Linked DNA regions of Homo sapiens. The protein of the gene in region 1 purifies or fractionates together with the protein of each later gene. This does not show direct contact. Each region holds a gene or a part of one and is shown in the gene's direction. Other genes may lie near its edges.

Region 1 (4,362 bases):
TTGGGCCTCGAAGACCTCGCAGTTGATAAAGGATGCTTGACCCGCCGCTTGCTCTGGGAGCTCAGTGTGTCCTGGGCCTGCCATTCTTCTGTGCCGTCGGCCTCGGGAGGATGACAGGCTGGGGAAGCTGGGGCTCTGCCGGTGCCGTGTGCTGGGACAGAATCAAAGGACGGGAGCGGGGCTTGTTTTCCCGCGGCCTTCACCTCCCGGTGCCCTTCGTCAGACGCATGGACAGAGGCCAGGGCAGCCACAGCCCTGTGCTGGGGACAGTTCTCAGGGTCTTTCCCCGCCTGTGGAGTTGGAAAAAGCTTTTACTTCTGGTGTGAGGTTGGCAGCTCTAAGCAAAGGGCCCACTCCTTCATGAGTTTCCAAGACCGACAGACACTGCTGGTGGTCCAAAAGTGCCATCTGGTTGCCGCCAGAACCCCCAAACCCAAATTCCTGCCCCATCACGGTTCCCAGGCATTAGATGGCCAGAGCGAAACAGGCATCTGAAAAGCGGCGCCGTGGCCTAGGGTGGGCGTGGACTCCGTGGGGTGGGCGTGGACTCTGCCTGGAGTGGGCATGGACTCTGGGGTGGGCGTGGACTCTGTGGGGTGGGCGTGGACTCTGCCTGGAGTGGGCATGGACTCTGGGGTGGGCGTGGACTCTGTGGGGTGGGCATGGACTCTGGCCTGGGCTCTGGACTGAACCCATGTGGCGGTCACTGCACGACTTCCCTGAGCCCACAGGGCAGCTAGCTCCAGGGTGCTGACCACATGGGACTCACAGCCCCCTCTTAGATGAGGTGCCATTGGCTGTGCACTCGGCTGGTGACTGAGAAGTGGGGTGTGAGCTGCAGCTGTCCTGCCCCTGACCATGCCTGATGCACTGAGAAGCCGGGAGGTCTCCCCTGGGTGGCACGGTTGGCCCCTCATGTGTGGTGACAGATGCCTACAGACTGGCTTTAGCAACAGACATGCAGACGGTCCTGGTCCTGGCAGCCAGAGGTCCAGACCCAAGGTGCCACCTTCCCCTTCCAGCTGCCCGTGGCTCCAGGCATCCTGGGCTGGCTCTGGCTCTGTCTCCCCTGGATCTGTCTCTGTGTCGCTGAGGACACTTGTCGTCGGCCTTAGTGCCTACTCTAATCCGGGATGATCTCATCTCAAGGTCCTTCGCTAATTGCACCTGCGGAGACCGCATTTGCAGCTAGGACACATCCCGCAGCTCCACTGGACGTGAATTTTGGGGACACTGTTCAGCACACTCCACCTAGAGCCCCAAGGGGCCAGAGTGGTTGGAAGGCGGAAGGCCCCAGCACAGTGGAAAGTCCGCGCTTGAGGAGTGACTCTCTTGTCCCTGAGGTGTTTCCAGGGCTGGGGCAGGGGCCCGTCAGCCCTGAGGTTCCGGGATGCCCTCCATCTCCACATTCCCATGTTCCCCACGCTGGGCAGGCTCTTCTCTCCAGGGACACTGCGTTCATGGGGAGACATCGTCCTCTGAGTCAGGAGCCAGAGGCTTGGAGGGTTGGCCGCATCACAGAGGAGGGGGAAGATCCCGTTCCCACGTGCGTTTGGCCACTGGGGGCGTCCCTGGGCCCCGTCAGCAGGATGGCTTTAGCCACCGGCGGAGTCTCCCCTCCAGCCTCGGGGTGGATGGTTCCCATGGCCGCATCTGCCTGACTCAGGGATCAAGGCCACTTTTCCCTGAAATCATCTCCCCAGGGCCTTTGGAGCGCTCGTTCCCACCGCAATTACCCCGCTCTCGGGGGAATCCTGCTGACAGGGCTGCTGTGCCGGGGTCGCCGCGGCGTTTGCAGTTTGCCTTCCCCCCACCCGGGGTTTGGCTGTGCGTTTGCTTTCATGGCAGCTCCACCAGCCCCTGAGGAAGATGCCTCTTAGGGACAAGGAAGGGGCTGGAGGGCCCCACTCAGGCTCTGCGCTGAGTCTGTTCTCGCGTCTCTGTGGGCTCTGGCAGATGTCACCGTCTGTCCACGGTGATTCTCTTCCTCACTTCCCTGTCACGCTGTCCCCTCCTTGTGGGTGGAGGCTGACTGGATAGCAGACTGTCAGGTGTGGAGGCTGGGTGGCTGCTGGATGAGTGGGCCGCTCAGCCATTCCTTCCAGTCCTGCCCAGTGCCTGGGGCTTCATGTCGAAGCCAGGACCACGCCCGAGTCTAGGGTCCATGGGAGAGAAAGCTGAGAGGAGCTGGTCCTGTCCTCCCGGCAGGGGTAGAGGCTCGTGGCTGATGCCTTGTCATGGTCTTCTTGCACAGGGCCTCAGCCTGGCACCTCTGCCACCGTGGGCTCTCTGTTGTGTGGGGGTGTCCCGTGCATTGCAGGACATCCAGCAGCATCCCCGGCCTCCTGCTCCGTGCCAGTAGCGCCGCACCCCGCCGTCGTGACAGCCCAGGTCTCCCGGTGTGCAGAATGCCCGCTGGTCATGCTGAGAGGTACAGGGGTGCTGCCCCCAGGGTTTGAACGCTGTCTAACTCCCACCTCTGGTGTGTCTCTCCCCTGTGTGTAGCGTGGAGTCACTGGATGAGTGTGGTGACCTCCCTGTGTCCAGCTGCCCTGGGCTGCAAGCAGGTCCCTCCTGCAGCCCTCCAGGCCACCCTTAAGCAGAGCTGGACCAGCCTGGCCAACATGGTGAAACCCCATCTCTACTAAAAATACAAAAATTAGCCAAGCGTGGTGGAACTCTGTCTCAAAAAAAAAAAAAAAAAAAAAAAAAAAAAAAAAAAAAAAGTTACTCAGGCCTTAGGGCTGCCAATATCTGGCTCCTGACTGAAGACCTCATACCATGTCAAGCCTCGGTATATTGTCCTTAGCAAAAGCAGCCACCCTCTGTGTAGGATCAGCCGCCTTTCTGTCATGAGGCTGGAGGTCAGCTATGAGGATTGATGTGTCTGGCGGGGACCTTGGACTGAGGCCTCCTGTCCATCAGCTCAGGCTGAGTCCGGGGGTGGTCACAGTGAATGGGGCACGTGTTTCTGGCCTCCAGGGCTCACCTTCACCCCCTCCCACCATGAGTGCCAGATGGGGGAGGCAGGACCTTGATTCTCAAGCAGCCTGGCAGGTCTGCATTCCCCCACTTGTAGGACAGATGCTCCCCCCAGCAGAAGTAAGTGGGCGAGACACAGTAGGGCTATGCAGATGTGAAGGGTCTGCACATTCCAGAACATTCCATCAGAGAGCAGATGGGAGAGAGGCCAGAGGGGCTGTGCCGAGGTGCTGTGCAAAGTGCCCTGTCCTGAGCTGCTCTGAGCTGCCCCCGCTCCAGGCCTGCAGAGTCAAGCTCCGCCTGCTGACCACCTGGTGACCAGAATACATCACACGCAGGCAGTGGGCCCTGGAGCTCCTTCTCAGGAGATCAAGGCCTCAGCAGGGCAGGGTGGCGGGCAGCCCTCAGGGAACCCACCAGCACCCCCAGTGTAGGCTGAAGATCAAAGGCCCCAGCACACCTGGCATCTGGGACAGACAGAGCTGGAGGCAGAGCCGCAGGCATCCAGCACGCCACGGGGAAGCAGGTGCAAAACAGGAACTGGGTCCACCCATCAGGAAGGGACCCCACCGTGGGCTCTGCCGTAGGAAATCTGGTGCCACCTTTGAAGTGCGCACTTTGTTTGGGGTAATTGCCAAGGTCTTATGGGAACCTCCCTTCACGGGTCCCCTTTGAAATTTGCTCACCTCGTCACTCTGCGGTGTTCCCTGGACCACCAAGGTGGTTCCCCTTCTTGGGCCCCCATGGTGACCTGTGGTCCAAGGCCACATGTTGGGACACAGCAGCCCCAGGGCCCGTCCCTGCCTGGCCCTGTGAGACGGGCTGGTGACTTTCCAGCAGGAAGGATACTGTCACACACGGTTCTCTAATGAACTAACAGTCCACAGCCTGACCAAGATTTCCACTTGTGCCTCCAGCTGTATATGCACCTGGCAGGTAGGCAGGAGGGGACCCGGCTCCTTTGTTCCGGTGGTGTCTTTGGTCTTCTTTCCAAGTTCTCCTTCCTGAAGCGCAGTGGTCTGTGAGACTGATGTCTGGGCAATATATTCCGGGCTCGAACACACCAGGCCCATTTCACAGAGGAGGCAACAGCCACAGAAAGGGCCAGTGCTGTCCCAGCAGCCACGTGACCTTCCGGAGACACCCCTTCCCCCAAAAGACATGTCCTCCTGGGGAACCTGTGAATGCTGGTGGCCTTATTTGGAAAAAGGGTCTTCGCAGATGTGACTGAAGTTCAAGTTTTGAAATGAGGTCCTTCTGGAATAGGGTGGAGCAGTCACGAAGTCCAGTGACGCGTGTCCTCAGAGGGCAAAGGAGAGAGCTCTGCACACAGCACGGGGATCGTTCTCGGCCCTGGCAGCCCTGCTCCTGCCCCTGCCC
Region 2 (4,362 bases), on another chromosome or scaffold:
ATACCAGATTCCTTTTTCTTCAGTAGGGTTTTCAAAATCTTTGCCAATTCCTATTAGACCATTGGGAAGGGAAGACAAAGAAGGAAAGGGAGAGATGTTAGAGGAAGGTTATGGGTTCCTGGCTTGACAGGTGGGAGAGCTCAGAGAGGTGGGGGCTCACTGGAGCCATGGAAATGACAGGGAAGGGGCCTAGCAAACACACCAGACCACAGTACTGTGCACAGACAGCTGGACTGACTAGAAAGTGTTTTATCCCCCAGAGTGGGGAAGGAAACAGGCTCCTCTGGGCACAATGACCTGGAGAGGGCAGAGCAGTCTTCTTGAGTTCCAAGCCATTCCGAGGAGCCAGAGTAGGGTGTAGACGGCAGCAGCCTCCCCGCCTGCCATGCCACAGCCTCTCCCTGCCATGCCACAGTTCAGCTCCGAGAGAGAGTGCCAAGGTTTGAGAGACAACCCGTGTTTAATCCTTCAGTGGTTTTGTAGAGAGTGAATTTCAAAATTCTTAGGGAGAATCAGTTTACACTTTTCTAACAAGGCTGAAGTAATATCTTTCCCAGCATACCTGCTGGAGGTTGGAGCATGCAGATACAGATCTCCAGTTCATGGCCCTCTCAAAGGCAGGCTGCCCGGGTGCCCCGGGAACCTATACAATGTGTATTATTTAATTATTATAAACATTTTCCATCAGTTGACTTTTTTCTTCCTGGAATGCATGAATGAGTTTTTCCAGATTTGTTTCTTGTATTTTGGCTCCCTGCCAGCCCTGGGGATACTGCTTTTGCAAAGCAGTCTGCTACATCGGCTCATATCCCCTAAAGAACTTAGGGTTCCACTTCCCAAGAGTTTGTAATTTTCCTGAGGGCAAAGCCTGTCTCTTGTTCATCTGTCTCTTGTTGCACCTCCAGGAAGGGCCTAACACACTGTTTGGCACAGAATAGGAGCTCAGGAGTGACTGTATTTTTCTTTGTAATCGAGAGTCTAATAGAAATTTTACCTCTAATAAGAGCACAGCCCACCTGAAACCAAAGTTCAATTATAATTGGATCACATCTGATTGGCAGTACTACATGATTCTGATTCACTTTTCAAAAATTAGAAAATAACTATTAAATAAGTACAGTTTATAGATGAAACATTTCCAAACACAGGGGCCACATGCAAATGTAAATAAAGGGATTCTTGCTTGTGAAACATTGGGAATCACTTTACTAATTTGGTCTTTTTCAAGAGAAGAGATTCCTTCAATTGATTGGATTGGTTGTGGGGACCCTGGGCAGAGTGTTTGGAAAGGGGTATCTTCTAGTTTTTAGCTCTGGCTTCTTTCCCTGGCCCTTAAAGCACATGAAATATTTAAGCTGTTTTACATATTCTCTTCCTTCACGTATCCTTTGGAGGAAGGAAGGTACCCAGCCCCACAAGTAATAGCTTTCCATTCTTCTTCCTGGAGCATCCACAAGATGTTTTTGTGGGGGAGAAACCAGCTAATTTCAGCTCCTCTATTAACTAGCTGTTTGACCTTAATCCCACTAGGCCTCAGTTATTTCATTTGTAAAACAAGAGGGTTGGATTACAAATTTTGTGTGTGTGTGTGTGTGTGTGTGTGTGTGGGAGAAACCAGCTAATTTCAGCTCCTCTATTAACTAGCTGTTTGACCTTAATCCCACCAGGCCTCAGTTATTTCATTTGTAAAACAAGAGGGTTGGATTAGACTACTAATTATTTATTCAAACCTTTATTGTGTCCCCATCATGTGTAAAAGGTTGTGCTAGGCACTGGAATTACAGGGTGGAATTGAAACAAGGGACTCCTCATTTACAATGGAGGCTGTATGAAGGTCTCTTACAATTTGGTGAGAAAAGTGGCGTGACAGTAGTTTGTTGAGAAGGCTGTGATAGAGAGGAGTGGTGTCTCATCCAGACTTGGAGTGGCCACAGAAAGCTTCTCGGAAGCTGAGACTGCAGGCAGGAGTGAGAATTAGCAGGTGGGTGGTGGGACAGGACAGAGATGGGGAGATACGGATGTTCAAGCAGAAGAGCATATGCAAAGACCCAGAAGGCAAAAGAGGCGGCTGTGTTCTGGAAATTGCAGGTAGTCAGTTTGTCTGAAGCGTAGAGTATGATTGGGGAAGGTGGGTGCAGAGAGGGGAGGGGAGGTAATGGTCAGTTTATGAGAGCCTTCTCGCCTTTTCAAAGGATCTGACCTGTATGATAGAATGATAGAACCAGATTTGCATTTTAAAAAGACCTCTCGGCCTGTGCAGTGGCTCACGCCTGTAATCCCAGCACTCTCGGAGGCCAAGGTGGGCAGATCACCTGACGTCAGGAGTTTGAGACCAGCCTGGCCAACATGGCGACACCCCGTCTCTACTAAAAATACAAAATTAGCCGGTCATGGTGGCACATGCCTGTAATCCCTGCTACTCGGGAGGCTGAGGCAGGAGAATCGCTTGAACTCGGGAGGCGAAGGTTGCAGTGAGCTGAGATCACGCCATTGCACTCCAGCCTGGGCAACAAGAGAGAAACTCCATCTCAAAAAAAAAAAAGTTGACTGGGCACAGTGACTCACACCTGTAATCCCGGCACTTTGGGAGGTTGAGGCAGGCAGATCACCTGAGGTCAGGAATTGGAGACTAGCCTGGCCAACATGGTTAAACTCTATCTCTACTAAAAATAAAAAAAAAATTAGCTGGGCGTGGTGGCAGGTGCCTGTAATCCCAGCTACTCGGGAGGCTGAGGCAGGAGAATCGCTTGAACCTGAGAGGCGGAGGTTGCAGTGAGCCAAGAACGCGCCATTGCACTCCAGCCTGGGCGACAAGAGTGAAACTGTCTGAAAAAATAAATAAAAATAAAAAATAAATAAAAAGACCTCTCTGAGCTTTGTCACTCAAAGTGTGGTCCACAGACCAGCAGCATCAGTCACACCTACTGTGTCAGAAGACTCGGGTGACTCACACACATTTCAGTCTGAGAAGCGCTGATTAGAGGGCAGTGTTCGGGACAGATGAGTGCAGGGGGAATTGCTAGGGGTTCGTAAAAGAGCTCTCTTTTTCTTCCAGCGGTGAAGCACTATGAGGACTGTAATTCTAATGGAGGCGTCTCTCATGTCTACACATCTATGTTTCTGTATCGTCTCTGCTGTTTTGCTTTATCGTGAAGTGTGGGGCATTTCGGCCATGTGCCCCCCTGAGTGGCATGGTTGTCTACCCTAGAGAAAGGGAAACTGAACACATGTTCCTGAGATCCCGGTGTTGTTATTTCCTCCAGCCTCCTTTCTCCTTCACAGTGTACTGAGCACAGTTAGTACAGTGCCATGAGCAGTTCTGTTAGTAGCTACCTTTGAGATCTCTCTCCCTGCCCTACTAACCCTGTGGCTCAAACAGAGTTATATGGTCACTGTTACACTATTCCATAATGATTTGTTTTCTTGCTGGTCTCTGTAGTAGAAACTGACCCTTTTGGGGCAGGGACCCTATCTTTCTTATTTCTGTACCAACATAGCCTTGGATCATGCCTAGTCCAAATAAGCATTTAATAAAGGCTTTTTGGTTGAAGAATGAATGAATGGATGGATGAATGAATGGAATTTAACCATTCAAACACTACTCTGATCCAAAAGGAGAACTTGATTTATAATTTGTCTTAATGTATCATTTGGCTATTTCTGTGTAATAAATCACCCCAAAATTTAGTGGTTTCAGATTCTCAGTTCTTAAGATCTGATCCCTGGACAGAAGCATCACCTGGGAACTTGCTAGAAATGCAAATTGTTGGGCCCCGTCACAGACCAGCTGGATTCAGAACTCTAGGGTGGGCTTAACAGTCTCTGTTTTAACAAGCCCTCATGGTGATTCCATGCTGGTTCAAGTTTGAAAGCACTGGATTAAAACGGTAGCCATTTATTTAGCTCATGATTCTGTAGTTTGGCAATTTAGGCTGCAGTCAGCTGGGTGGTTCTGGTCTCAGCTGAACTCCTTCAAGTTTGTCATCAGCTGTTTATCACCTTTGCTGGTCTTGTCTGGCTCTCTCACTTTGGGACTTCAGCTAGGACACTGAGCTGATCTGGCTCTCTTCTGCATGGGCTCCTGTTTTCCTGCAGGCTAGCCTTGAGCAGAATCCTGAGAGAATGGAAGCGTGCAAGGTATCTTGATGCCTAGCCTTGGAAATGGCACATCATCACTTCTGCATTGTCTTGTGTAGCAACTCACAAAGGTAGCTCAGATTCAAGGAGTGGAGAATTAGATTTCATCTCTTGATGGGAGGAGCTACAAAGTCTCATTGCAAAGATGTGTGTTATTAATTGGGAGTCATTGGATAACCCCTCTCAGGAAGAACCTTAAGAAGGTACTGTTTTGGGGTAGGACAG
Region 3 (4,362 bases), on another chromosome or scaffold:
TTTCCCCAAGGACCTCGTACCAAACGCCACCCTTTCCTTGCTCCATTTGGTAAAGCTCTCCATAAATTACCATTAATGGCAGCACCTCATAAAAGCAAATTCGGAGCTGGGTCTGGTGCTGTGGCTGCTTCAGGTTGCTGAGAAAGACATCCACTGAGGTCGCTTTTCTTCCCTGATGTTTTCCAAAATGGAATCAGGAGTCCTGCTGCTTAGCTGATGCTGGCTAATGCTGAGGCTGCATGGGTTTGGGTTCTTATTTATCTTAGATGTTTTTCTGTATTTTTTTAAGATACCCGTAAAATCTGTACCTTGGACATGGTGGTGTCCGACACTTCTTGAACAGTTTGAGAGGAAGTTAGTGTAGCTGGAGTTAGTAAGCAAAAGACAAGCCTTTGTCTTCATATCTTTAATCTTACAAGGTAGTTGATTTATTATTATTATTATTTATTTATTTATTATTATTTTTTTTTGCGACAGTCTCGCTCTGTCCCCCAGGTGGGGTGCAGTGGTGTGATCTCAGCTCACTGCAAGCTCCGCCCCCGGGGTTCACACCATTCTCCTGCCTCAGCCTCCAGAGCAGCTGGGACTACAGGCACCCACCACCATGCCTGGCTAATTTTTTGTATTTTTAGTAGAGATGGGGTTTCACCTTGTTACCCAGGATGGTCTCGATCTCCTGACCTCGTGATCCGCCTGCCTTGGCCTCCCAAAGTGCTGGGATTACAGGCATGAGCCACCGCACCCGGCCGATTTATTATTTTTGTAAACAATTTAATTGTTTAGTTTACTGATGGAAGGCTGAGTACCCTTCTAGAAGGCAGAGTTTTAGATTCAAGTAAAGCTCTGTTAACCAGAGCCTGACGAAGGACTTTTTTTCCCTGATTTTTTTTTTTCCTGTGCCCTCTTTTTAGCAGAAGAATGTATTTCAGGAAAATAAGACAGTATTGGAAATTTTGTTTCAACAAAACAAAATAATTGTCGAGGGCCAGGTTGGCGGCACGACGGGGTGTGCCTGGCTCTCATCCTACCTGGGTTTCACCTCCCCTGGGTGGGGAGTCCTAGACTTTGCCATTTTCAGTCTGTGGAGAAGGTCTCAGTGATTCCTGAGAAGGTTTGTGTGGGGCAGCATCATGAGACACTGCAGAAATATTTGGGGAAAACCAAGGGCTTTCTGGCTGCTCTGCCTCCCCTTCCCGCAGGGGTGCTAATGGATCTGGCCCACCCAGATTCCTGACATCTTTTGGTGAACTGAGGCTTTGTCATACTGGGGCTAGAAGCCAAGTGTATATGACTTGTGGGGTGTCTCTACCCCATCTCCCCCTGCCCCCATGTGCAGTAACTTCTCTCCATAGTGGAGATGCTGTGAAATGCCCCCAGTGGAAAGTGTTATTGCCATTTGATACATAGTGGTTTGGTTTTTCCTGGGTTGAGGCATGTGGTGTGGATTTCTGTTGCTGAGCTCAGAGATACCTCACATAAGACATTCACCCCTTGAGTCATACCCACGTCCTCACTGCAGAGTCACAAATGGCACTGGTGCTACTGGGGGAGGAGACGTGAGCACACACGCGTTCTCTTCTGTGCAGCTGTGGGCCAGCCTCGGAGCTGGCTGTGGAGAGCTGGCCTCACTCACCCCTCTTGCCTGCACTAGGTGTGGTCAGGTGGCAGCATCAGTGCCTGCATGGCAGCCGAGACACATGGTGGGCTCCCCTACACATCCTGGCTTCCCAGGGATCCCTGCACTGGGATTTCTCCTCTGGCTTGGAAACTTAGCCAGGACTGCTTCAGAATGGTTGTGGGTGGGATATGCACATAAGACACTCTGACCCTGCTGGCTTCATCTCTTTAGGGACCTCAATCGGAACAGGATTCGGCTGATAGAGGGCCTCACCTTCCAGGGGCTCAACAGCTTGGAGGTGCTGAAGCTTCAGCGAAACAACATCAGCAAACTGACAGATGGGGCCTTCTGGGGACTGTCCAAGATGCATGTGCTGTAAGTGCGGACCAGGTTACTGGCATTGCTAAGGATTGCTGTGCGGTGTGGTGTGATGTGGCGTGTGTGTGTGTGCGCATGCATGTGCGCACCAACACCAACGTTGCTGTGTGTTGGGTGTGTGCGCCCACACCAGCATTGCTGTGTGGTGTGGGGTGTGTGTGCGTGCGCGTGTGCACGTGCGCGCCCACACCAGCATTCAGCTGTGCACTGGGCATGGAGTGGGGCACCAGTGCCCAGCCCCTCTCTCCTGAAGGATTCTTCAAGACTTCAGCCGGACCCAGCCCCCTTCCCTTTGCAGCTTCACCTGGGCCCAACTCATTGTCTTGGGGACCGGGCCAAACCTGAGGGTATTTTCCTAGCAGATTGGGACATCCACTGAAATCCACTTGGGGGAAGTTTCAGCGGATTGAGTCAGATAAGTTGGTTGATGGAGATGGAGTTTGGGGGCCATTCTGCCAGGACTGCTTTCCACAGCTTGCATCCACTGCCCCCGCCCCTGCTTCTTCGGTGAACGTGGGGCTGCGGAACAGACCCCTCCTCACATCCTCTCCACTCCTGACCACAGGAAGTTCCTTCTCTCCCCTTCTGGGTTTGACAGTCTTTCCTGAGGTGCAGGTGGGCCAAAAATGTAGAGCTCATCTTAGGAGGTTTATTTCTGTCTTGTGAGCTAATCAAGACACTGGGTGCAGATGTTTAAGTTTTATCAAGGGAGCAGTCTCTTCAGCCAGATGTGTACAGCAGCAGAAGGGGCTTGCCTGCACGGTAACGTGAAACAGCAGGGCAGCATACAGAAAAGGCTTTTTAAACGTTGAAAGCCTTTTTAAACGTTAATATTTATTTTTAATCAAAAGTAATTTGACTGTATAGTTAAATAAAATCAGATAGTAAAGAAAAGCCATCACTGCCCACCCCAGCCTCCCCCGCCACCACCCCCTCATTCTCTCTTCACCCCAGTTCTTCTCCCAAGAGGCAAGCACTTCTAAGCCTTTCTCTTTTTCGTTTTTCTGTTTTTAGCTTTGCTGGTTGTTCCTTCCAAGTTGATAGACTGACACCACTGTCTTTACTTATCCACTTGCGATTTCCTCCTTGAGAGTCAATGATTTAACTTGCTCATGTCCGCCCCTTCTTCTTCCAGTCTGGGCAAATTATATCATGACTCGAATGTCCTTTACTGGTTTTCTTGGCAGTGGAAACGAGCTAGGCCCAGGTCCATCCACATGTTGTGCTGTGTCACTCTGATAACCGTCTCTGCATGACCAGCCCTCCCTACTCTGTGAACAGTGAGGATGTTTCCTGCCGCTGGGCTTCTTGCTCTACCCATTCTCCACCCTTTGTTTTACATATTCAAAAACGTTTCACTTGACCTCCTTAGGCATGTCATTTTGGACTTGGAAGTCCAAGGTGGTCATGTGCTGGGTGGACTGAAGTTAAAAGAGAATTCTCAGAGGAAAATGGAGTTAGCACCTACCATTTGGTTTTTATGTTGAACAGATTTGTATAAATTGAGACTGATGAGCTGCCTTAGAGGTTATTTATACATTAAGTGCTTACCTTTTGAGCAGTAGCAGAAAGAAAGATGGAAAAAAGCAAAACTCAGTTACCCAAAGCCCTTGTAATACTGAACACGGAGCAAAATTCGGGTTACGGACTTTTGTTGAAGAGGCGGTTGCCTGGGCTGGCGCTGTCCTTCCTGGCACATGCTGTGTTGGGAAGCGGGGTGCTAGCACACTTACACGGTGGGCCTGAGAGCTCAGGCCTAGAGCTGCACTGAATCCTGATGTACCCTTGTTTCCTTCTTATAGTGACCCCATGGAGTCAGTGCTCTTGGATATCTCCATGTTAGTAGATGTGCAGGTTTATTCAGCCAGCAAGCTGCAAAATTAGGATTTAAATCCAGGTAGTCTGACGCCAGAGCTAAAGCGGGTCTCCTAGCACAGTGGCACAGAGTCCAGCCTTTGGTAGGCAGACCCAGGGTTGAATTAATTCTAGCCCCTTCCCTACTGGCTAAGCTGTGTAAAGTCTTAGACAGGTTACCTGGCTTCTCTCAGCAGCACATTCCTCATGTGTGAGATGCGGGTGATAATAAGAGCCGCCTCCTATTCGCTCTCCTTTCTATTCCTTTAATGGGCTTTGCCCTTGCCTGGAACTCCTGTGCCCGTTTGTTGGCCTGGGTCACTTTTTGTTTTGTTTTTGGTAGAGATGGGGTTTCGCTATATTGCCCTTGCTGGTCTCGAACTCCCGAGCTCAAGCGATCCTCCTTCTTCGGCCTCCCCAAGTACTGGATGGGCATAAGCCGCCACACCCAGCCCTGGTTCACTTTTACTCAGCCAAAAAAGTCACTTCTAGGAAGCTCCCTCTTGCCCTAT
Region 4 (4,362 bases), on another chromosome or scaffold:
TGAAATGTTTTTATTACTCAAGTGCAGGAAGTCTATCACCTGGCTTTTTACTTTTTTCCCCCCTGGTAAATTTTGTTAGGTGTCATTGCAGCTCAGTAACTTCTGTGTTCCAGATGGACTGGGATGTTACTTGAGTGTGGTCTCGCCGTGAATAAAGAGATTGTGTTCCTGAAGGTGGAATACTGGCTTTTCTATATTGCCTCCACCTTTGTAGAAGAGATAAAAACAGAAATAATAATGAAAGCACTAGTAAATGTTAGTACTTAATTTTTTTTAAGATCAAAAGCCTTTTGGGGGCACATTTTCTCAGGTGTTCTAGTTGATGTGAAACAGAGAGGTGGCAATATCAGAAGAAATCTTACCTGACTTTCAAGTTTTAGAGTTTTTTCATTTTTATTTTTCCAGGCTGGAAAATACAAAGAGAACATAATTGTTCAATTTTACACTTTATTTTTAACTTCTAATTATTGATATTTAAAAGAATACCCCAAAGTAGAGAGTATGCTACAGGTAGTCACCACACAAATTCAGCAGTTGTCAGTATTTTGCCCATTTTATTTCATCTGTCCCTCGCCCTCACCACCTTTTTATTTTTTGTTGGAGTATTTTAAAGGAAATCTCAGACATACTATTTCATTCTTTAAGTATTTCAGTATGGCTGAGTTTATTTCCAACGAAGTATAAGCCAGTGGTATATCTTCTTGTCTGGTTATGAGAAAGCATTTTTTGGTGAGAAGTAAAAATCGTAGTTTTTCAACTAATGATACCTCTTAAAGGGAAGGGAATGGTTGCCATATTGGTGCTGCTTCTAGGGTATGTGGTGCGTCATCCTTTGCATTTCTGCTTCAGGATTTAGTGATGGCTGAAAGCGCTAGGACATAAGAATGCTTTTTGGATTAATACATTGGGCATCACTCCTGCCCAAAATATGTGTATCTTGTCCACATGTAGTCTGGAATTGGACTTTTAAGTTAACCTTCAGATTGAGTCTTTGCAAAAAATCAGACCAGGCTTTACAAAAAAAGCTCCAGGGATTCTTTTACAGCTGTTGTTCTCCCCAAAAAGGTTTTAATGGATTCTTTTTAAAGTCAGTTTTGGGAAAATGTATTTTAGACTAATGTTTATCTTCTAGACAAAGCAATTTTTAACTGGCAGGCAGAAGACATAAATACTTGCCCAAGATTACATGTTGAAATATGTCTTTTCTTTCTTTCTAAAGATAACTGGTGGTCTCAGGTATGCCCGAAATATTTCATGAAGCTGGTAAACCTCTATAAAGGTGCAGTCCTTTATCTACTGAGGGGAAGAAAGACATTCTTAATTCCCGTACTGTTTAACAATTATATCACAGCAGCTCTCAAACTCTTGGAGAAGTTATATAAGGTGAGCATAGGAGGTGCTAGTGGGGAGGGGGTGATTAGATGGTAGGGTAAAATGTCCTAGTGAGATGTTCTCTGGGAAGCCATGTTTCAGTTGTCTGTATTTTGTTCTTCATTAGGTAAATCTTAAAGTGAAGCATGTGGAATATGATACATTTTACATTCCTGAGATTTCCAATCTCGTGGACATTCAGGAAGACTACCTCATGTGGTTCTTGCATCAAGCAGGGATGGTAAGAATTCATAAAGCATATTTTAAAGCTTTAGTCTTTTTATAAGAAAAGCACATGTGAGCTGTATAATATGTCTTTGACTTTGATGTCAGTGTGTCACCTATTCTTCATCCAGCTGGCCTTTTGCATTCTAGAAACTTGGAAGTGCTTTAAGTAATCATCAATGTTATAAGGAGTCATAAATGAGTAGTCACCCAGAATGTTACACATTTTATCAGTTGCCCCCTTTAAAAAAATCAGAGTATCTAAAGTAGTCAAATCCACAGAAACAGAAAGTACAGTGGTGATTGCTAGGGGCTGGAGGCAGGGGAAAATGGAGAGTTGCTATTTAATGAGTATAGCTTCAGTTTTGCAAGATAAGAAAGTTTGGAGATCCAATTGTACACCAGTGTGACTATACTTAACACTGCTGAAAGTGTACACTTAAAAATGCTTAAGATGGTACATGTTATGTTAGGTTTTTTTTTAAACCATAATTAAAAAAACAAGACACATACAAATATGAATTTTTAGCTTTCCTCAAAACTTGGAAGATCTGGCAACACGACCTGTCTTCCCATATGACACCAAGTGGCTGGAGTTCAAGAGTGACTCTTTAGATGAGGCTTATGTATATGCCACAATTCCCACTGCAGCGTAATTTATCCCTGACATTGAGGAAGGGTCATTTGCTAATTATCATCTTCTGACAGCCTACTCCAGTCATCATATGTCAGCTACCTGGACCCCGTAGGCCCCTTCTGATTGAGAATTATGTGTGTGAAAGTGTCACACATCCCTGACCAAGTGCTGTCTCACCGTATTTTAGATATGCCATTCAGGGGCCTGTGGATTCCTGCCTACCACCTCTGGCGTGGCAGGAACTGCTCCTTTTGATAGCACACCAGCTTGGGATATATGCAAGGCTCTTTAGGATCTCCCATCTGTGGAGTATGTGCAAATTTGAGTTAGGTCAGAAAACAGAATGATAATTTGGTTATTGTATTTTGTGAAGCCATGTGCAGCAGATTTGAGGTGAGTCCTTGCCAGTGTAGCAGGTTCATCACCAGTATTAGGGCAATATTTTTCCTGTGGGGTTTTTGGAAGTCAGCAGTTGTCTCCAAAAGCAAGACATTTAAATAGGCTGATCTAACTGAACAAGAAGGATTGTTTTCTTTGTCAAATAATAGATGATGAATGCTAGACACAATGTTGTATTTTTTTCTCTAGAGACTTAAAAAATGCATACAATGTTTTATTTTTAAATAAGATTTTATGATTACCCTGAGAAAACAAAATACTTTTTTTTTGAGACAAGGTCTGGCTCTATCACCCAGGCTGGAGTGCAGTGGCACCATCTTGGCTCACTGCAACCTCTGCTTCCCAGGCTCAAGCCATTCTCCCACCTCAGCCTCCCGAGTAGCTGGGACTACAGGTGCGTGCCATCATGCCTGGCTAATTTTTGTATTTTTTGTAGAGATGGGGTTTTGTGATGTTTCCCAAGCTGGCCTTGAACTCATGAGCTCAAGTGATTCACCAGCCTCGGCCTCCCAAAGTGCTGGGATTACAGGGGTAAGCCACTGTGCCTGGCCAGGAAAATACTTTTTAATATAAATGAGTTAGAGTGTTCTAAATGGGCTGACTTGGGAAATTTAACATGGAGGCTAGTAATGAACTCTGTTTTCACTTTCAAATTTAGGAATTATTAAAAAATAAGCCCTTCTGTTTTATCAATTTATGAATAATTATTCACTGAATAATAACATTATGAGCAGAAAAATAAGCCTGATGAATTATTTAGTCCAACTGCTTTGTTTCTAGATGAGGAAATGGAAGTTAAACAATTTTTCCACTAATTTCATTAGTAGCAGTAAAAGTCAATTCTTCTGATTTCTAATCTACCCTTTCTGTGACTTGATGCTGAATAAAATAAGTCTAACAAATTGTAATTCTTTTTTACTCTGAAAAAGAAGTTGCTCATGTTAAAATCTAGATTATTATGACAGTAGTCTCTGAGTAGAGATATTTAAGTAACTTTTACAATATTTTAAACTTCCTTTCTTTTAACATTTGATAAATATCTTATCAGATCTTGAATAACAGATGCTCATCTCTTCAATAACTATAATAGTTATTAAAGAAATATGGAAAATTACATGAAATTAGTATATGGCCTTTTGTGATTTTTGTGGAATTTTTTTTATTGTATGAGGTACAATGCTATTAGAAATTGAATTTTAAATGTCTTGATATTTTGAAGTTTAATTTAAAATACTAAAGCTATTTCATATGTTATTTTTGTTTAACTACTTTTAAATAATAGATGGATTTTTTTGATGTGTGTTGGCATTTTTAGCTTGTTAATAGCTGAGGCTGTGTAGTATATTATTGAGCACATGCTCCAGTCAAAAAGACCTGGGTTCAGTTCCTTACTCTGGTCTAATGGCCATGGCCTTAGACAAGTTACCTAATTTCTATAGGCCCAGCATCCTCTTTTGTGAGTAAGAATTATAACAGATTGTGGAAATTAAATGGGAGAAAGCATGGAAAGACCTTGCTTAGCAGAGTACTTAGCATATAATAAGCCCTCAATAAATATTTTTCACGAAGCAGTTCTTGAGTACCTAATGTGTGCCATCTGCCTGCTAGTCACAGTGGAAACATGTATGGATATGGTGTCTACCTTTGCAGAGTGTTTAGCCCAGAAGCAGCAGTGAAAAATTGCAAAGGGATCTAACACATGTGTGCAGAAGGAACATTCTAAAGTGGCT
Region 5 (4,362 bases), on another chromosome or scaffold:
AGGGAGGAGCACAGTCCCTGCAACCACTATGGTCTGCAACCCCCTGCTCAGGCCCCCTGGATGCGTTTGAGTGTACCCTCACATTTTCCACACCAGTTGTTTCTAAACTGCAACTATACATTGCATGAAAACATTCAATGACTCCTTGATACCATCAGGATAAAGCTTTAAAAATTCCATTGCACCTGAGTATGGTGGCTCATGCCTATAATCTCAGCACTTTGGGAGGCCAAGTCAGGAGGATCGCTTGAGCTCAGGAGTTTGAGATCAGCCTGGGCAACATAGTGAGACCCTGTCTCTACAAAAAAATGTAAAAGAAAAGAAAGCCAGGCGTGGTGGTGTGTACCTGTATTCCTAGCAACTGGGAGACTTCTGCTTGAGTCCAGAAGTCTGAAGCTACAGTGAGCTGTGATCATACTCCTGCACTCCAGCCTGGGTGACAGAGCAAGACCCTGTCTCTAAAAAGGATTTAAAAATTAAAAAAATTTCCATCGCATGCCATAAACCACCTGATCTCCTACCCCACGTACCTTTCCAGGCTCTTTTTTTTCTTTCTTTCTTTACCCATCTTCTTCTTTTTGGAATCTTCTCTGTGTCCTGCCAACTTCTAATCCTTCAGGTCTCACCTTAAATATTGTTTTTTCCGGAAGATCCAAGGACTGGCTTCAGTGCTCTGAGGGTGTAGGGAAAAAAACAAAGGGATTTTTCTATTCTCTTTTTTTTTTTTTTTTTTTTTTGAGACGGAGTCTTGCTCTGTCACCCAGGCTGAAGTGCAGTGGCACGATCTCAGCTCACTGCACGCTCTGCCTCCTGGGTTCACACCATTCTCCTGCCTCAGCCTCCCCAGCAGCTTGGACTACAGGCGCACACCGCCACACGCGGATAATTTTTTTGTATTTTTAGTAGAGATGGGGTTTCACCGTGTTAGCCAGGATGGTCTCAATCTCCTGACCTCGTGATCCACCCGCCTCGGCCTCCCAAAGTGCTGGGATTACAGGCGTGAGCCACCGCGCCCGGCCTGATTTTTCCATTCTCTTATGCACGGGGACTCATGCCTATGGTCCCAGCTGCTTGGGAGGATGAGGCAGGAGAATCCTTTGAGTTTGGGAGGTCAAAGCTATAGTGAGCCGCGTTCATGCCACTGCACTCCATCCTGAGCAACAGGATATCAGTAATCACGGGTCTCAACCCTGAGGCAGTAGTTTCAATTTTACTTGTCTTTCCAGCCTGAGAATAAGCTCATTGAGGGCAGGGACTGTGTCTCTCACCACAGTGTTCACAGCACCTAGTATAGGGTCTCGCTTTCATGCTCAGAACATAAATTGCAAACCAAAAAAGCCTTGATTGTAGTTTGGCTATTTGAGATGCTGCAGTGGGTCTTTTTAAAGCTATTATAACCCTAAGACTGCAAGCAATATATATTTTATTCTGCTTATGGTTTGAATTTATTAATTGGACAAATATTTTGTTATGTATCTGGGCTGTCCAGCGGTGCAGAGCACACACATTCTGTTCTCACAGCTTACTGACATTTACAGAGTTTTCATTATATTCATCCTTAGAGCAGACTAGAAGATTTGTCTTAGAAACTGTTTGTTAGAGACCTAGGTACCTTGAAATAGTCTTGTACCGTTGGATGCACTAAAAGCTCTCTCTTTATCTTGCAGGTGGTCACCATGGGCCTTTTCCGCACTATTGCTTTGTTTTACCTTGGAAGTTTTGACAGCATAGTTCGTCGCTGCATGATGCAGAGAGAAAAATCTGAAAATGCAGACAAAACTGCCTAATCTTCTTACCCCTTGGAAGAAGACTGTTTCCAAATAATTTGAACAGCTTGCTGCTAAATGGGACCCAATTTTTGGCCTATAGACACTTATGTATTGTTTTCGAATACGTCAGATTGGACCAGTGCTCTTCAGGAATGTGGCTGCAAGCAAGGGGCTAGAAGTTCACCTCCTGACAGTATTATTAATACTATGCAAATATGGAATAGGAGACCATTTGATTTTCTAGGCTTTGTGGTAGAGAGGTGAAGGTATGAGAATTAATAGCGTGTGAACAAAGTAAAGAACAGGATTCCAGAATGATCATTAAATTTGTTTCTATTTATTCTTTTTTGCCCCCCTAGAGATTAAGTCCAGAAATGTACTTTCTGGCACATAAAGAAATCTTGAGGACTTTGTTTAAACCTTCCATAAAAAAACAATTTTCGGTTTCTCGGGTTCTCTCTCTCTCTCTCTCTGTCTCTCTGTCTCTCTGTCTCTCTGTCTCTCTGTCTCTCTGTCTCTCTCTCTCTCTCTCTTTCTTTCTTTGTGTATTTTATTCAAGATGAGTTGGACCCATTGCCAGTGAGTCTGAATGTCACTGACAGCCCTGTGTTGTGCTCAGGACTCACTCTGCTGCTGGTGGAAACTCATGGCTTCTCTCTCTCTTTGATCCCATAAAGCTACGAGGGGGACGGGAGAGGGCAGTGCAATGGGAAGTAAAGAGATATTTTCCAGTAGGAAAAGCAATGCTTTCTTGTCTTTAGACTCAAATGCTTAGGGAACGTTTCATTTCTCATTCATGGGGAAAGGCAGCCTCCTTAAATGTTTTCTGAAGAGCGGTAAAATCTAGAAGCTTAAGAATTTACAGTTCCTTCAATAACCATGATGACCTGAAGTTCACCTATCCCATTTTAGCATCTACTTGTTTTTCCCATCTCTTCCTTTCCAATTTTGCTTATACTGCTGTAATATTTTTGTAAAAAAAAAAAAAAAGGAAAAAAAAGACCAGCTAAAATTTTCGACTTGACTTTTTAACTTAACTCATGAATTAATTAAAGCAAATGAAAAAATTAAAAAGTGTGACTTTTTCTCGGAGCATATATGTAGCTTTTAGGAAAGGCTGATGATGGTATAAAGTTTGCTCATTAAGAAAAAAAGACAAGGCTGATTTTGAAGAGAGTTGCTTTTGAAATAAAATGATCACCTGTTCTTTATGTGACTCTCCCACTGAACCTGCAGACATTATTTTTATACCACATGCTAAGGAAGCCCACTCATCTAACTCTGTAGCCCTGGAAACCCTCTTGGCCCCTGAATGTTGTTTCCAGGTTATAGGATCTGTGTTCATTAGTGGATTTTGACAGCAAGTGCCTCTGATGAGTTTTAGCCAACATTCCCCGTTGCATCCTGCTCATTGTTCACACTCCTCTGACTTGAGGAGAGCTGCCTTCACCTTGATCTTGTAACCTGTCTTCCTTGCATATACGGTAGCACATTCCAGATCACTTCGGTGAGAAAAGACCTCTGTTTTTGAAGAGGAAACTTTCTTAAATTGTAAAATAAAACTTAAAAAACATAAAAACTCTATACAAAAATTGAAGACCTAAAAATTATAGCATACCTTTTTTTTGCTCTTGAGTTTTTGAAGCTCTTGACTTTAAATGACTTAACTTTTTAAAAAATAAGATGTTTTATGGCTTTAACCCATGTTTTTATTAAGATCTGAGAATAGCATATTTTAAACACTGATAGATACAGAAGAAATTATTATTTAATATATAAATTGCTTGGAATGATTTCATTGCAGCTTGTAAGGATGGGTTGATGCCAGAATGGTTTCATAAATCTTTCAGTCTTACAGAGCCAAAGTTTGCAGATTATATCGAGTTGCGTTGTGCAGCTGCTAAAATGGAATCATAGCTTTTTATAATTTGCAGAAAACAATTGCATTAATGTCTGGATGTTTCTCAGTTTTATTCTTTTCTCATAAATGTTCCTCGAATGTTGGCACCTTCTACTGCTGATCTATATTAGAATCTAGTCCAAGAAAGTGTCTGATTTAATAACATTAAATAGTTATTTCAATATATTTTTTCAAATTATCCTCATAGAACCTGTTGCCTCCAGTGAGATGGTAATCTACTACCCGAATAAATTTAAGAGCACCTGTTGAGAGCCCCTGTTTTGCGGTAGAAGACAATTGTCCCTATCCCAATTTCCACTGAAATATGAGAGCAGATTTGCAGAGACCATCATGTCAGAGAAGAAATTTCCTTGTCAGAGATGTTAAAGGGCTACAGTCCCTTAGCAAAGAAACTTCGAAATCTAAGTTGGTTTGTGTTTTTCTAAATTTGATACCGTAATTCATTTGGCAGCAAAATCTGACTTGAACTGATGTGAGAGTATTGTACTTTATATTTATGCTACTTCATTGTGACTTAATTTTCCCTGAAGAAATATCCATGGATTTGATTATAGGTTTTCCCTTAGATGCTGTGGAGGTGTTTTGTAATATTCAAAATATGCCCATATTGCCTTTTTAAAACCCCAAAGATTATGAATTCTGAAACACATCCAGCCCAGCGGGTTTTGGATA
Region 6 (4,362 bases), about 88 Mb from region 1:
ACCGATCAACAGGATCCCAAGGCAGAAGAAGTTTTCTTAGTACAGAACAAAATGAAAAGTCTCCCATGTCTACTTCTTTCTACACAGACACAGCAACCATCCGATTTCTCAATCTTTTCCCCACCTTTCTCCCCTTTCTATTCCACAAAACCGCCATTGTCATCATGGCCCGTTCTCAATGAGCTGTTGGGTACACCTCCCAGACGGGGTGGTAGCCGGGCAGAGGGGCTCCTCACTTCCCAGTAGGGGTGGCCGGGCAGAGGCGCCCCTCACCTCCCGGAGGGGGCAGCTGGGCCCGGCCTATTTTTTTGTTTTTGTTTTTTGAGATGGACTCCAGCTCTGTCGGCCAGGCTGGAGTGCAGTGGTGCAATCTCGCTCACTGCAACCTCTGCCTCCTGGGTTCAAACGATTCTTGTGCCTCAGCCTCCCGAGTAGCTGGGACTACAGGCACGTGCTACTACACCCAGCTAATTTTTTGTATTTTTAGTAGAGACAGGGTTTCACACGTTGGCCAAGATGGTCTCAATCTCTTGACCTCGTTATCTGCCCTCCTCGGCCTCCCAAAGTGCTGGGATTACAGGCGTGAGGCACCTTGCCCGGCCAACTTCACTCTTTTGGTGTTTGATTTTAGGGCATAAAGTTTATCACTTGAGTCCTTGAATGAAAGGAAGTGTAAACCCTGACGAGTATGGAGTGTGGACTGTCTAGATGCCCCCTGGTCTAGGGAGGGATTTATCCCTGAACAGAAGGTGCCAGAACATCCAATTCTTAATGCCCAGATGTCCTGCTTGTTCCTTTCTGAAGGTTAACACTAGGCATTGTTGCCCACCCCCTGGTTTTCACGAAGGAAATTACTCATCCTAGTGAGGAAGAAGCCACCGTCCTCGTTGGGTGCCCTCACAGTGGCAGGTTCCATGTAGCAGAGAAGTAGGTCGTGCTGGACCTGATCGTTCCTGGAAACCAGGCATGGCCCGCGGAGTATAGTCTGTGGTTTTCTCTTTCAGTTATCTATGACTTTCTGGCTGTGGATGATATAAACGGGGACAGGATCCAAGATGTTCTTTTTCTTTATAAAAACACCAACAGCAGCAACAATTTCAGCCGATCCTGTGTGGACGAAGGTAATTTCATTTTATATGAAAAAGGCGGAGCTCCCTGTAGAAAGAGGAATCGTCATTTTGGGTCACCCTCTCGCTTTCAGTGTTTGGGGGAAGCAGATGGTGGTGTTTCTGGAACCCATCTCGTCATCCTTCCTGGCAGACCAGAAAGAGGCCTGGAAGCCCAGTCCCAGCACTGCCCTGGCCCCTGAGCCCCGTGGGGTCAGCATTAGAGCCCCGGGAGCCTGCAAGATACAGGAGATCCACCTGGCGGGAGGGGCTGTGGCCTAGGAGAGGTGTGAGGAAAACAGACCTGGAACAGCACATGCTGGGGCTGGCCGGCCTGCCTGCCCAGATGGTGCAACAGTGAGGTGCCGGTGTCTCTCCCTACAGGCTTTTCCTCTCCCTGCACCTTTGCAGCTGCTGTGTCGGGGGCCAACGGCAGCACGCTCTGGGAGAGACCTGTGGCCCAAGACGTGGCCCTCGTGGAGTGTGCTGTGCCCCAGCCAAGAGGCAGTGAGGCACCTTCTGCCTGCATCCTGGTGGGCAGACCCAGTTCTTTCATTGCAGTCAACTTGTTCACAGGTAGGCCAGCCAGGCAGCGGGGTTCTCACTGAGGGCCTCTCACCTGAGCCACCTCACCCTGAGGGCTAATGCCAGGAGGCCGCGACGAGGCTCAGCCCTGTGATCTTGAGGGTGGCTGGATGGGAAGGAAGGTTATGGGGAGAACCTCCAAGTGAGGCTGCAAGCGTGTGGAAGGCACACGCCTCGGCTGCCTTCAGCTGCACTGTGTCTGTTACCTCCCGTTACACCTTGCTGGTGGGCTGTAACACACAGGGGCAGTCCGATGTCACCTGCCATGGGGTAGCAGAGAGGAGGAGCGGCTTGGCCCCCGGCTGCTCCTGGGGTGTCAGTGGTGGCAGTGCCCAGGGCGAGCCCAGAACATGAACCAGCACTCGGCCCGTCAGGGGAGATCGGGGCCTGTCAGTGCCCCTAAGCCTGAAGGTGCAGGTCTCCGAGCCCCAGCGGAGCCGGCCTCGTGGAAGGACGAGGGAAAGAATGCGTGGTGCACGGGGCCATGTGTGTGTGTGGGCTCCTTGCACCTCATCGCGGTCTGGAAGATTTCTGTGCCTAGATTTGGTGAATGTTCATATTTCCCTTACAAGCTGTCATTTTAAGGATATGGAGGAGAATAAAGAGCAGGCTGAAAATATTTTAAGAATCAAGGAATCTGTCTTTAAAAAAAGGTTTGGATGAGATTGTATGTGCGTAAGGAGTTGGACGAGGACCTGTGGTCAGTAGATCTGCCTCCGGGCGCACACCTCCATTCTTGCCTTCTATGTGGAGGGCAGATGAAGGGGCCACTCAGCTGGGGCCTGCATGGCACCAAGGGCACGCCTGCAACCCCAGCAGGAGGCAGGGGCTTCGAGAGGTGGGTGAGGTCAGGCTTCATCCACTCGGGCAGGAGGGTCAGCATGGGCCCTAGAGGTTCCAGGACACGCAGATAGGAGAAAAGGAAGGGGGAACTCTGCGGTTCCCAGGAATGAGGCTGTCAGCGTTTGGCATATTGCCACCGAGTCTCCATACACGGGCAGGACGTGTGTCCACCACCTCCGCGTGCTGCTCCTTCACGAGCACAGGAGTGCCGCCCTCCCCTCCTGTTGGCATCTGCTCTGAGTGTGCAGTGAGCCGTGGGCTCACGAGGGTGATGCCTCAACAGGAGCCTGCCTGTCACAGGCCTTGCAGTTGCCGGGCTGCTGTTGAAGGGGACTCAGGGCCACGTTCCGTGACCGTGTGCTTGATTCTAGGGGAAACCCTGTGGAACCACAGCAGCAGCTTCAGCGGGAATGCGTCCATCCTGAGCCCTCTGCTGCAGGTGCCTGATGTGGACGGCGATGGGGCCCCAGACCTGCTGGTTCTCACCCAGGAGCGGGAGGAGGTACATCCCAGCCTGGCTCTGCTCCCAAGTCACGAGGCCACCTGCCACACGGCCCTGCTCTACCTCCCCATCTGCTGCCACTTCCCAGACAGGATTCGGGTCTGACCACTTGCCGGGGACTCGCCCAGAGCCCCACGTTCCCAACTCCCATAGACCCAGCATACTCAGGGGGCTCCATCTCTACCAGGCAGCTTTGGGGCCTCCCCAAGAATGGTGGAGTACACACTTCCCATTTGTGCTGTTGCAGTGTTGGGGGTGAAGCTCTGAGGGCTGGGAGCACCTGTGAGGCACTGGGGCTGCCCTGCCTGCCTCATGTGCCCCGTGCAGTGTGGAGGCACCAACCATCGTGGCAGACTCTCTGATGTCAGCGTGTCTTTCCTCAAAACCAAGAGCCTGTGGGCCCCTTACCCTTCCACATCTCCCATTGTAGAGTGCCCCGCCCCCAGGCTCACGTCCCTCTCTTCCTGGGCCTTGTGTCATTGCAGCCCCAGGCTCAGGTCCTTCTCTTCCTGGGCCTTGTGTCCTTGCAGCCCCAGGCTCAGGTCCCTCTCTTCCTGTGTCATCCTGTGTCATTGCAGGTTAGTGGCCACCTCTACTCCGGCAGCACCGGGCACCAGATTGGCCTCAGAGGCAGCCTTGGTGTGGACGGGGAAAGTGGCTTCCTCCTTCACGTCACCAGGACAGGTGCCCACTACATCCTCTTTCCCTGCGGTACGTTGTTTCTGCCACATCCCTGGCCAGCCTCACTCGTGGAGCATGACTGCCCTGCGGCTCCTCAGGTCCTGCTTCTGCTCTCGAGGTGCTGGAGTCAGGAAGCCCAGGGGCCTGGCTCCATGTGGCACTGCGTGCCCCTGGTCCGGGTTCACAGCGTGACCCTGGTGACCTCGGGCCCTTCTGTGTTTTGAATAGCAAGCTCCCTCTGCGGCTGCTCTGTGAAGGGTCTCTACGAGAAGGTGACCGGGAGCGGCGGCCCGTTCAAGAGTGACCCGCACTGGGAGAGCATGCTCAATGCCACCACCCGCAGGATGCTTTCCCACAGGTGGGTCCGGGCCGCAGCCTTTCTCCATGCAGAGCGCCCACCCCATGGCTCTGCTCGCCTGCCTCAGCGTTCGGACAATCTGTGTGGAGCCCAGAGCAGCCCCACCGGCAGGGAGGTGCTCGGGGTACCGCAAGGTCACCCTGGGCTCAGATGTGAGAAATGGTCAAATAAAAGTTGAGTAAAGAGAAGAAAGGTTCCCGACGCTGTGCCTGTCTGTCTCCACGGAAAGTGGGGGTCTTTCTTCTCTTTTCTGTTTTTTTTTTTTTTGGTTGTTTTTTTTTTTTAAG
Region 7 (4,362 bases), on another chromosome or scaffold:
TTTTGTTCATAGCTTTATCAGCACAGTCATTTCAAAACAGGAAGTCAAAGGCTCATAAGCAAAGGCACCACCCTTTCCCTTCTTAAACCCACCAAAAGGACCTCTCTTTAGTCTGGAGGTCAAGTGAAAAAGGCTCTCATGAAAGTCATTGCCAGCAGGCCTCTTCTAAGTTCAGACTCTGAGGAAAACCAGAAGTCATTCTGCTGATTCATTTTTTTTTCTTTTTAGTTTTTCTTTTGAATTTTTGGGACACCACCTTTATAACAAATAAAAGGGGAGGCAGTTCTTCCTATGAACAATCTGATCTGTCAGTTAAAATTTCCTAGAACTTGTAATTTGATGCATCTTAGATCCAATGTGAGTGATTGAAACTTACAAGCAGACTTGTTCTCCTCCTCCCCAGCCCCCTGTCTGTCTGTCTCTCTCTCTTTTCCTTTCTTCTACTCTGTGCCAGATACTGTTCTTGGCACTGGAGATGTAACACATACATACATCTCTGCCTTCATGGAACTTAGATTCTAGTGGGGCGGACAGACTTTAAGCAAATGCAGAAGTGACATATATGGTATATCAGATGGTGTTAAGAGAAAAACAAAACAGAGAAGATGGTTGAGGGGTGTGAGAGGCAGGGGTTGCAATATAATATAGAGGTAATTAGGGAATGTCATTGATAAGATGACACTGAGAGCAGACACCTGCAGGAAATGAAGGAGCCGGCCATGTTCCAGGCAGAGAGCAACACAAGTCAAATCTGGTCCCTGAGGCAAGAACACGCATGGCAAGGTGGTCAGAGTGCCCAGAGCAGAGGGACGGAGGCAGCCAACAACCACAGTGGGGAGAGACAAGTCGGAGAGAGACAATTGTTTTGAGCCTTGGGTTTAACTGTAGATGGGAGGGAAGCGCTGCAGAAGCTTGAGCAGAGGTCTCTTGGGGCAGGGAGGCAAGGAATAAGGGTGGAAGCAATGTAGCAAGATTGAAAATGAAGTCTCCTACTTGCACTTTTTTTTTTTTTTTTTTGAGGTGGAGTCTTGCTCTGTCACCTAGGCTGGAGTGCAGTGGTGCAATCTGGGCTCACTGCAACCTCTGCCTCCTGGGCCCAAGCAATTCTCCTGCCTCAGCCTCCTGAGTAGCTGGGATTACAGGCATGCACCACCACACCTGGCTAATTTTTGCATTTTTAATAGATACTGGGTTTTGCCATGTTGGCCAAGCTGGTCTTGAACTCCTGACCTTAAGTGATCCACCCTCCTCGGCCTCCCAAAGTGCTGGTAGAGGTGTGAGTCACTGTGCCCAGCTCTACTTGCACATTTGTGCTCATCTTTGGGCAGCCGGTAGTGTACTTTGGTTAAGTGGTCACCATATAAGTCCCATCTCCCCTCTACCACCTGCTCCCCCTTGACCCCCAACTAGACCATCTCCTTTTTCAATTTTTTAAAATTTATCTTTATTTTTAAAAACAGGGCCTTGCTCTATTGCCCAGGTTGGAGTGTAGTGGTGAGATCACGGCTCACTGCATCCTCGAACTCCTGGGCTCAAGGGATCCTCCTACATCATCAGCCTCCCAAGCAGCTGGGACTTACAGGTGTGCCACACACCCAGTCCCATTTCCAATTTTTAAAGCAGTAATGAAGAGATCTGAAAAAGAGATTTGAGAAAAATTTTGACTGAGCTTGTAGTGGGAAATTCGTAATATCTTCAGGGTGCAATCGGTGGCATTTGTTAATAAAAATATCCAGAAAAAGTGCCAGACTTAAATCAGCACTCAATAAAAATAAAACGATGAAATGGATCAGCGCTCTGGGAGTGGAAGACCCGAGTCCTAGTCTGGGGTCTCCCATGTCCTATCCCCATAAATTATTGTGTATTATTGATTCCAGAACATATTTTTTTCACATTTTAGTGATTATGCAATTTGTGTTGTGATTGATGGCATCTCAGCACCGTGCTGCCCTTTAACGAGCAACTGTTTCGTTTCTTAGTGTTCCATCAAATAGCAGTGTGCCTTCACCATGGATGCCTTCTGAGGCCACCTCTGTAAATTGTGAAAGTACTTTATGTAAACTGTGGCACACTTCATAACCTCAGTAAGTGATGAAAAATGGCATTCCTCCAAGATGCAGAGTCTGAGGGCTCAAAAGTACCTGGTTAGTCTTGAGTACTTGCTTCTCAATGGCCAGACTGGCATGCAGTCTGTCCAAGTCTTTTTAACTTTGCCTGGCACTTATTTTCAGAGCCCAGGGCTTGTAGTTAGTATTTGTCTGATTAACGATGAGGTTGGTTAAGAGTTAGAATGGGGAGGGTGGGAAGTAAGTGATTTAACTTGAGGCTTGAACCTGGAAGTTCATCTAGAAATAGACATAAACATTGCCCAGGGAAAGTATCACCAATGTGGATTTTTGTTTCTTTCAAGGCTACTGAGCTGTCATGACTTTGTCATTTCTCTTTTCTGGCCCTTTTAGAAATGTACTGTGGTTGTTTGTTTTTTTGTACATCTTCCTCTTTTGACATAGCAAGGCATGGATTCTGTCAGGTTCATCTTTATAGCCTCTGACCCTGGCCCAGAGGTGCCTAGGAAACATTTAAAGAGTAAATAATTGATTCTCAAAGATAAGCCTTTCCACCTCGGTCACCACCCAATCCATGTGCGCAGAACTCAGAAGGAGGAGCCAGGTTGGATTGTCATGTACAAACAGCATCTGCTGTGGTCTAGTCCCTTTGTCTCCCAAATCTCTTTGCTTCTGTTCTGCTGTGTTTCAGGGCAGGAAATAGAAATCAGTCTAGATATTTTATTTTTTAATTTAATTTAATTTTTTTTTTTGAGACAGAGTCTCACTCTGTCGCCCAGGCTGGAATGTAGTGGCACCGTCTGGCTCCTCTGCCTCCTGGGTTCAAGCGATTCTCCTGCCTCAGCCTTCTAAGTAGCTGGGATTACAGGTGCCCGCCATCACGCCCAGCCAATTTTTGTATTTTTAGTAGAGACAGGGTTTCACCATGTTGGCCAGGCTGGTCTCGAACTCCTGACCTCAGGTGATCTGCCCGCCACGGCCTCCCAAAATGCTAGGATTACAGGCATAAGCCACCGTGTCCAGCACCAGTCTAGGTATTTTAAGCAGAAAGATATTTACTAGAGGGAATTTTGTGCTTATAGAGGCATAAGGGGGCTGGAGGAATGGGGCTCCAGGAATGTCTCCCAGCTAATGGTAGTAGTTTATATAATAATTAATAAACAAACGTATGTTGGCATGGCTGTTCAAAAAAAACAAAAAACAAAAAACAAAACTGACTCACTAGGGGTGCTACACCCTCTGATACTGTGTCTGGAACTATTGAGTTCAAGAACAAATTGATGGCAAAGCCGGAGAGTGGACCCTATAATGCTGTTGCAAAAAACCCTCGTGACCCCATCTCCATGCTTGCCAGCGGCCAAACAGCCCCAAAGGCAAGAAGATGGCCTCTCTGCCCCACATCTGCTTTCTAAATCTCAAGTGAGTGCTTCTATTTGGGAGAGCCAAATTCACATCTAGAACCTTAGCTTCAAAGAAGCCTGGGAAATACAGCTTTTCAATTACCAGCCTCTGCAGGCTAGAAAGCTTTCTAGAAGGAGGGTAGAATGAACGATGAGCAAATAATCACAATACTCACCACACCCTATTGGTAAAACATATTTGAGCAGCCATCCCTCAATATATTTTGTTTATAAATAATTTCTGCATATTACTACCATTATCTACATATCTAGGATAGGATCCTTTCTGACTAGTGACTGCAAACCCCTATGTCGTTATCTGTTGGATAATTCCGTTGGCTGACTCTTTATCAATTCTGATTCTTTCATCCTTTTGACCTTGTAATGTTGTCCACAAAGATACAATGGAGAGCTAGTACTCAAGAGGGAGGAATGCCATTTTCTTGTGTGCCTGGATTGTGACAATTATCTTCAAGTTGTGGTTTCTTGGCTGGGATCTCTTTAGGCCTCAGTTCTATTTTGTGAGGAATAGGATAGTTAAAAGTAGATAATATAATCTGTAAATTTACTTATGATTCAGTTGTAAATGGTTATTCATTGAAATATGCTGAGAATGGTGGAATTATTGAGGTGGTCACTCCAGTTCATTTTGTGGTTGAGGATACCTGCCTGAGTTTCATAACTGACATGTAATTTGATATGACAGGTTAGATGGAGTTGTTTGTGGCCATTTGTATTCTTGATATAGTTAAAATTTTTTTAGGTTAACTGAAAATGGAAGGTCTGGTGTCTAGATGAACAAAAAATGGGAAGTCTGATGTTTCCTTCCCGGACCCCTTTTGTGGCACAGTGTCCACTAGGATTTTGGAACTCCAGGACTAGACCTGCCTTGAATG

What was found.
Region 2: the proteins of SLC7A5 (region 1) and PODXL2 purify together in Homo sapiens (affinity purification with mass spectrometry; one large-scale study listed by BioGRID and IntAct). This does not show direct contact.
Region 3: the proteins of SLC7A5 (region 1) and LRIG1 purify together in Homo sapiens (affinity purification with mass spectrometry; one large-scale study listed by BioGRID and IntAct). This does not show direct contact.
Region 4: the proteins of SLC7A5 (region 1) and HERC3 purify together in Homo sapiens (affinity purification with mass spectrometry; one large-scale study listed by BioGRID and IntAct). This does not show direct contact.
Region 5: the proteins of SLC7A5 (region 1) and KDSR purify together in Homo sapiens (affinity purification with mass spectrometry; one large-scale study listed by BioGRID and IntAct). This does not show direct contact.
Region 6: the proteins of SLC7A5 (region 1) and FAM234A purify together in Homo sapiens (affinity purification with mass spectrometry; one large-scale study listed by BioGRID and IntAct). This does not show direct contact.
Region 7: the proteins of SLC7A5 (region 1) and CHST11 purify together in Homo sapiens (affinity purification with mass spectrometry; one large-scale study listed by BioGRID and IntAct). This does not show direct contact.

Annotation. Positions count from the first base shown.
Region 1 is NC_000016.10:87,841,712-87,846,073, reverse strand, and holds part of SLC7A5 (large neutral amino acids transporter small subunit 1), read left to right. Parts: intron 1-4,362. UniProt on the Homo sapiens protein: The heterodimer with SLC3A2 functions as a sodium-independent, high-affinity transporter that mediates uptake of large neutral amino acids such as phenylalanine, tyrosine, leucine, histidine, methionine, tryptophan, valine, isoleucine and alanine.
Region 2 is NC_000003.12:127,631,896-127,636,257, forward strand, and holds part of PODXL2 (podocalyxin-like protein 2 precursor), read left to right. Parts: intron 1-4,362. UniProt on the Homo sapiens protein: Acts as a ligand for vascular selectins. Mediates rapid rolling of leukocytes over vascular surfaces through high affinity divalent cation-dependent interactions with E-, P- and L-selectins.
Region 3 is NC_000003.12:66,410,502-66,414,863, reverse strand, and holds part of LRIG1 (leucine-rich repeats and immunoglobulin-like domains protein 1 isoform 1 precursor), read left to right. Parts: intron 1-1,849; coding exon 1,850-1,993; intron 1,994-4,362. UniProt on the Homo sapiens protein: Acts as a feedback negative regulator of signaling by receptor tyrosine kinases, through a mechanism that involves enhancement of receptor ubiquitination and accelerated intracellular degradation.
Region 4 is NC_000004.12:88,668,641-88,673,002, forward strand, and holds part of HERC3 (probable E3 ubiquitin-protein ligase HERC3), read left to right. Parts: intron 1-1,219; coding exon 1,220-1,383; intron 1,384-1,498; coding exon 1,499-1,612; intron 1,613-4,362. UniProt on the Homo sapiens protein: E3 ubiquitin-protein ligase which accepts ubiquitin from an E2 ubiquitin-conjugating enzyme in the form of a thioester and then directly transfers the ubiquitin to targeted substrates.
Region 5 is NC_000018.10:63,329,207-63,333,568, reverse strand, and holds part of KDSR (3-ketodihydrosphingosine reductase), read left to right. Parts: intron 1-1,667; coding exon 1,668-1,787; 3' UTR 1,788-4,362.
Region 6 is NC_000016.10:258,479-262,840, forward strand, and holds part of FAM234A (protein FAM234A), read left to right. Parts: intron 1-1,004; coding exon 1,005-1,121; intron 1,122-1,490; coding exon 1,491-1,682; intron 1,683-2,905; coding exon 2,906-3,036; intron 3,037-3,614; coding exon 3,615-3,747; intron 3,748-3,945; coding exon 3,946-4,075; intron 4,076-4,362.
Region 7 is NC_000012.12:104,463,069-104,467,430, forward strand, and holds part of CHST11 (carbohydrate sulfotransferase 11), read left to right. Parts: intron 1-4,362.